Linked DNA regions of Homo sapiens. The protein of the gene in region 1 purifies or fractionates together with the protein of each later gene. This does not show direct contact. Each region holds a gene or a part of one and is shown on either strand. Other genes may lie near its edges. The genes, in order: ZNF776 and OPA1.

Region 1 (3,820 bases):
CATACACCTGTCCAATGTGTCCTGAGTGGGGACTCCTGTTGTATAGAAAGGGTCTGCTTAGAAGGTGTCTCGTCTTTTGCTCCATACCAACAACCTAAAAGAAATAAAATGCTGGTAAAATGCAAGGTACTTCCGAAGGGAAGTATTACTAAGCCATACCTGATCAACAGCTGCTTTGTTGTACTTATATTTACTTGGGCCTAGACATATCCTTTTATATAGCACCCACATGCTTTATGAAGGTCCTTTAGATGTTTGCACAGGAAGGAATTGCCTCTGCTTCCTGTAGTGCATGTATTGTTGGCTCCTTCACATCATGTGGCCCCCTACATTCTGTAATCATTCTAACCCAGTAATATGAAGAAGACTTATCTTCAACCTAAAGGCAACATTCTGTTTCTGCAATTATTTCCATGGAGTAATACCTCTGTTAGATACACTTGTTTGTGTGTCACAGGAAAATACGAGTACAACAAAGATACACTTGTTTGTGTGTCACAAGAAAATACGAGTACAACAAAGCAGCTGTTGGTCAGGTATGGCTTAGCAATGTGTACACACTTCCTAATACAAAATTGATATGCCAGTATTGGAGTCCACTGCAGATGGAAATGTGAGAAAAATGGGTCCAGGTGGGATCCAGAGATGTGAAGATTAGTCCTGGGCTGGCATCAGAGGAGAAGTGACAGGGTATAGAACGGTGAAGTCTGAAACTCTCAAGAATGGGGAAGACAGAAACAGCATATGGCTCGTCATGTTGCCAGGTAAATACTTGTGAAATCAGAGAGCTTCTAGCATGACTTTCCTAAATCCCTAATGTTATGTCTTCCTCCAGGGTGTTACTCCTCAGAGGTGGCCTCCCTCTGGGCCCATCATGCTGAGCCTGGGTTTAGCTGCAACTTCTGGATCACTGAGAACTCTCAGTCCCACTGCAAAGATATACATGGAATTTACATGAGACATGGATGACATAAAGAATAAGAGAAAGACAAGAGAGAAGAATAGCCAACCAACAGTTCAGAAAAAATCAGCACATGATAGCCCATAGGAAAGAAAACTAAATACTACAAAGATAATTTTTGGCCAGGTGCAGTGGCTCACACCTATAATCCCAGCACTGTGGGAGGCCAAACTGGAAGGACTACTTGACCCTAGGAGTTCAAGACCAACCTGGGTAACATAATGAGACACCATCTCTACAAAACAAACAAATGAGGCCGGGCACGGTGGCTCACGCCTGTAATCCCAGCTCCGGGAGCCCGAGGCGGGTGGATCACAAGGTCAGGAGATCGAGACCATCCTGGCTAACACGGTGAAACCCCGTCTCTACTAAAAATACAAAAAAATTAGCCAGGTGTGGCAGCATGTGCCTGTGGTCCCAGCTACTCGGGAGGCTGAGGCAGGAGAATGGTGTGAACCTGGGAAGCGGAGGTTGCAGTGAGCCGAGATTGGGCCACTGCACTCCAGCCTGGTGGCAGAGCAAGACTCCGTCTCAAAAAAAAAAAAAAAAAAAAAACAAAACCAAAAATACAAATGAACAAAAATTAGTTGGGCAGGGTGGCATGCTCCTGTAGTCCCAGCTACTTAGGAGTCAGGTGGGAGGATTACTTGAGCCCAGAAGGCTGAGAATGAAGTGAACCATGATTGCATCAGTAGACTGCAGCCTGGATGACAGTGAAACCCTGTCTGAAAAAAAAAAAAACAAAAAAGCAAAAAATACTCAGGGCACACTGGCTCATGCTTGTAATCCCAGCACTTTGGGAGGATGAGGTGGGAGGATCACGTGAGGTTGGGAGTCAGAGACCAGCCTGGGCAATACAGCCAGACCTCATCTCTATTAAAAATAAAAATAAAAATTAGTGGGATGTGATGGCAGAAGCCTCTAGTCCGAGTTACTCTAGAGGCTGAGGAAGGAGGATTGCTTGAGCCTGGGAGATTGAGGCTACAGTGAGCTATGACTGCAGCACTGCACTCCAGCCTGGGTGACAGAGTTAAGACTTTGAAAACAAAACAGAACAAAACAAAACAAACAAGATAATTTATAAGGAGGGTCTTGCAAGAACAACCTATGGTGCATGTAAGTATTGAGAACATCAGTGATGGGAGGAATTCCTAGCACAGGCAGTCATGAATAAATGTCACCTAGAGCAAGGAAGTAGAACCTGTGCATACCAGTCTCTGATCTAGAAAAATTACTCAACAGCCAGAGGGCAAGCAAGGTGGGATGCATTATGGTGCCTGTAAAGCTCCTTCTCTGGGAGCTTGCAGCAAAGCAGGTGTTGGGGCTGCTCAAGGAGAGAGAGGGCAGTGCACACACCTCAGTCCTACATACCACATAGAACCTACCCAGGGAACTAACAGAGGAACCTGTGCCCAGGCTCCTGAAGTGAGGAAAACAGTCTTGCCATGGGGAAAAAAGATGGGGACAGACAGACAATAGCTGAGGTCATAGAGAAGAGTGTGAGTGCCTTACCTAGAGAAGATATAAGTGTCAGGTTCTCCAGCATCACGTCATGATAAAGGCATCTCTGAGCCTCACTAAGGAGACTCCATTCCTCCTGGGAAAAGTTCACAGCCACATCTTCAAAGGTCACAGTGCCCTGCCGTGATGATGACAGATGAAACCACAAACACTCCATATGCTCATCCACTTATCCACCCTTGCCCTTCCTCCTCCCAAGGTCCTAAACTACAAGGAGAAACTAGGCCCACTGGTGTCACTATCTTCTCATGGGCTCACTGGTCATGGTGTACAGCCATCAGCCACAAGAAGTGGGTGAAACAATAGATTTCTATGTTTTGGTGCTGATATAAAGCGGTCCATAACTTCCTGATAGCCAATGCCCCTGGTAGAGATGAAGTCATGTAAATCCCAATGCAGCATCCTCAGTCTATCAGACATACTCCTTCTCTAAATACACATCATTCCTTTTTTTTGCTTTTTTTTTTTTTGAGATAGGGTTTCACTCCTGTTGCCCAGGCTGGAGTGCAATGACATAATCTCAGCTCTCTGCAACCTCTGTCTACTGGGCTCGAGTAATTCTCTGGCCTTAGCCTCCCGAGTAGATGGGATACAGGTGCATGCCACCGTGCCGGCTAATTTTTTTTTTTTTTTGTATTTTTGGTAGAGAGAAGGTTTCACTATGTTGCCCAGGTTAGTCTCGAAATCCTGAGCTCAAGTGATTCACCCACCTCAGCCTCCCAATGTGCTGGGATTACAGGCATGAGCCACTGTGCTAGGCCAAAATACACATCATTCTTTAGACTGCACAGACACATGCCCATGGCCACCCCCACTAAACTGCCTCCCACATTGGCCTCTGCCTCCCCACAAGTTAAAGTATGTTTATACCCTCTTCTTCCTTCTACCAGTAAGGGTGAGATTTTCACCTTACAGTTATATTAATGACCAAACACATGACATCAAACACTAGACAGGTGCTATAAATATGTTTAAAAATCAAATACACTCAAAGTCTAGAAGAGGACATCCCTCATCATGAAGGACCACATAGGGGTTGCACTATGGATAAGAGTGCATAACCAGAAACTATGATATGCAAGCTTTTAAAATGAAGAGGGTGTGATGACCCCCGAATCCCTTAGGAGGATGCAACTGGCTTGTTTGAATAACACTGTGGGTAAGGATAAAATTGAAACTCACTACAAAGTATAATAACCAGGAATTCTGCCTGGTCTCCCTAATAAAAGGATTATTAGGCCATGCTGATTATTATCTAAAAGAGCCTAGTGGGAAGGGAATTGGTTCTCAGGTCATTTGAGGTCATACCAATATCACTAGATGTCAAGGTGACACATC
Region 2 (3,820 bases), on another chromosome or scaffold:
TCTCCTGCCTCAGCCTCCCGAGTAGCTGGGATTACAGATGCCCGCCACCACACCTGGCAAGTTTTTTGTACTTTTAGTAGAGACAGGGTTTCGCCATGTTGGCCAGGCTGGTCTTGAACTCTTGACCTCAGGTGATCCGCCCTCCTCAGCCTCCCAAAGTGCTGGGATTACAGGCATGAGCCACTGCACCCAGCCAAGAAATGTTATAGCAATGTATATTAACAGTCAGTGGTTTCACAAGAACTTCTAAATGCCTAATTGACACCTTTCTAGCTTCTCTATAGTTATTTTACTTTAAAAATACAATTCCTTCTACTGAGATTAGCTAAACAGGCTAAATTTAAAAACAATAAACAGCTGTTGGAAAGCTGTTTAGCTATTTTCCATCAGAGGATTTGCTGATTTGTAGCACAGGGCAAAGGCCCAAGAGAAAAACTTAAAATGTGTAGCAGTTTCACTGGGTTGAGTAGACAAGATTGGAATTCCGAGTTATTAAGTAGTCACGTCTTAAGGTGCCACAATCCCAAAGAAAAATGAACTGCAGAAATAAACCTCCAAAACAAAACAAAACCCTACATCCTGCGCACAATTTCCTTTCACGGCATTCACATTTTAGGAAACCAAGCAGAAAGAAGCTGCTAAGGAGGTTAAAATGCTAAGCTGGGGTTTTGGCACTTTCACTGCTCTAGGGAAACAAAAAACTGGAATTCAGGGTTGGTCAAGGAGAAGCTCTAGTAAACACTAAGGGACTAATGACAAACCGGAAAGAGACCAGCCTCATCTGTTTCAAGGAAACCTGTCCACACCCTGCCTGCCAAAACAAAATTAATTTCTTCTTGAAGTATCATCCACAGCTTCTACAATTAGGATGCTAGTAACAATGTAAAAGGTAGGTTTCTCTCCCATGTTTTTACAACTGATTATTGAACAGGATATGAGGTGTAGTCTGAGGTTCATTTTGTTTTTTTCTCTAGGTTAGATGTACCCCAAATTCCCATCGGTAGTAAAATGGATATGTAAAGTCTGGTACAGTCACACAGTACCACACACAGAACTAGTAACACATAACACGATTCAATCCATAGCTAGACCCACAAAAGTGCAATCTAGATGAATCACACTAGGCTGCCCATACCCTGTTGCACTTGTAAACAGATTTCATTTCTTGAAGATTTCAGCATCAGCCTCACTGTCTTTCTCCCACTATTCTTGCCATAATTCTTGGTAATTTCAATCTTCCAATTATTCTACACCTACCCCCCACCAGCTAAACATGAAAAAAACAAAACACAATCATAATGATTCATTTAAAATTTATGTCCACAGAACTTAAAGGGACTTCAGTCCACCTCAGTAATCCTAATATCACTTGACTTTCTCCACTGATTCACTCCTAGAGTCACCACGATCTGTTAACAGACTTCACTTTTTCTTCCTGCCTCAGTCTTTAATCTCTTCTCCTTTCTAATTAACAGCTGATCATCTGGCTTAGTATTTCACTGAGTAAGCGGAAGCAATCAGAAGGAAACTTCCACACGTTCCCCTTTCTTGCCTCCACTGGTGAACTCAACGACTGGTTTCTATGTTCACCTTCCTTGATGGATCAGCAGCATGTGACCTCACTGAGCACTCCCTCCTCCTCCATGTTTTCTTTTTGTTTACCTGACTTTGCGCACACTGTCCTGCTCTGCTTTCCCTCTTACTATACTGGTTGGGCCTTCACACATTCCTTTGTTATTTTCTCTTCCCTCAACATCTTAATGTTCAGAGTGCCCAGAATATACTGCTTGCTTCTGTGTTTTCTCTATCTCTACTCACTCCCTTGAAGATCTTCTCCAGTAAGATCATGACTTTAAATACTACTTTTAGATAGTTGATCATGACTCCTAAATGTATGTCTCTGGCCCACACCTCTGTCTAAACTTGTATACCCAACTGCTTGTTATCACCACTCAGCAAGTCCAAAACTGAACTCCTGATCTTCTTCCCCCAAACCTGATCCACTGACAGACTTCCATGCAAACTACATCCTTCAATTTGTTCAGGCTAAAGACCCTGGAGGCATCATTGATGATTGACACTCTCTCTCTCTCTCCCCATTGCTTTTCTTCTCTCCCCTCTCCATATCAAACCTGTCAAGAAATCCTGTTAATTCTACTTTCAAAACACATTTATAATCTATCCATTTCTTACCAGTTTCACTGCTACTTCCCTAGCCCAAGTATCACCTGGATACTCCAGTAGCCTAGACTCCCTGGTTCTACATCTTGGCTACAACTATTTTCAAAAGAGCAGCCTTTTAAAAGGCACTTTTGTTACTTTGCTCGAAATCCTGCACTGGCTTTCCATTTTACTTAAAACGGAAGTCTGTACAATGGCCTATAAGGCCTTATTGATCTGTTCCTCCCCGCTCTTCATTATTCCTCTAATGTCATCATTTGCCCCGACCATGGCTAGCTCTTCACCCCGACCTGACCACACAGGCCTCTTTGTTGTTCCTTGAACATGACAGCCACACAACCACCTCAGAGGCTTTGCATCAGCTATTCTCCTTGCTGAACACAGGATATCCTCAGGACTACTCCCTCACTTTCTGCAAATCTTGGTTCAAATGCCACCTTATCAATGCAATCTATGAATACTCTGGCACCCTCATTCTCCTTGCCTGGTTCTGCTTTTTCTTGTTGTACAACACTATTGCCTTCTAACCTACTATACAATTATGTATTATATTTATTATCTATTATCTGTCTCCCTCTACTAGAACATACCCTCCATTAAGGCAAGGTTCTTCTTTGTTGTTGCTGTTTACCAACATATTGCCTAGAATGCTACTGGTACATATTAAGCATTCCGTAAATATCTGTTCAATGAAAGACTCTGCAGCCCCATACCTTCTTCCTGTGACCCTGGAGAAATTGTCAGTGCTCCCAGATATGGACTAGTACACCAAGTCACAATCTCCTTCACCTCAGTAACTTTGCTCTTGCAATTTTCCCTCTCTCTTGCATCATTTCCCCCCTTTATTAGATCATTATAATCAGCATATAAACATCTTTAATCCTTTTCCCACTTGCTCCGACAATATTTGCCAGCACCGCTTGCAGCTGCAGCATTTGCCCCAACATAACTCTGCCATAAAATATCTTCACTTTTATGATTATTTTCACATAGCTCTAGTGTACTGACTTTGGAAACAAAAGACATTCTATTTCAAGCATTCTGTTTTTAGTAGCGGTACGTCCATTTACAAAATATAGTAATTTTCAATAGCTGAAAATGTCAAATCCTAGAAAATGCGGAATTCCTATGTGTGATGTTTACATCATTCTCAAAAAGTTGTTGGCCGAAGATTGATTTGATAAATCTGACTTTTAAAAAACAGACATTCTGATGATTGGGACGATTCTGATGTTAGTACTGTTTAGAAATAACTCTAAGAACAGTTTTTATATTTTATTTTCACATTGAAAATTAGTCAGATTTGCTTCAGCTTCAGAGAGTGTGTTTACGTAAAATTAAATGAGCACTGGTGTTGAGCTGCACTTTTTTTCTAAACAGGAAAAGGGTTAAAAACCTTCCCTTAATTCAACAATATTCAATTGCTACTGCTTCATTTCTCTGCTCTTTTGTCACAATAAAACTAGAAAATTATCTATATTCATTGACTCCACTTCCAATATTCTCATTCTCTTAACTTCTCTCTTATCTTATTCAGAATAAAATCCAAAGGCCTCCCAACTGGGTCTCTGTCATCCTCTCCTACCACTCTCCCCTCACTCAGCTCCTGCCACACTGGCCTCCTGGCTGTGCCTTCTAC

What was found.
Region 2: the proteins of ZNF776 (region 1) and OPA1 purify together in Homo sapiens (affinity purification with mass spectrometry; one large-scale study listed by BioGRID and IntAct). This does not show direct contact.

The regions. Positions count from the first base shown.
Region 1 is NC_000019.10:57,749,565-57,753,384, reverse strand, and holds part of ZNF776 (zinc finger protein 776), read right to left. Parts: intron 2,601-3,820; coding exon 2,474-2,600; intron 95-2,473; coding exon 1-94. UniProt on the Homo sapiens protein: May be involved in transcriptional regulation.
Region 2 is NC_000003.12:193,638,208-193,642,027, reverse strand, and holds part of OPA1 (dynamin-like GTPase OPA1, mitochondrial), read right to left. Parts: intron 1-3,820. UniProt on the Homo sapiens protein: Dynamin-related GTPase that is essential for normal mitochondrial morphology by mediating fusion of the mitochondrial inner membranes, regulating cristae morphology and maintaining respiratory chain function.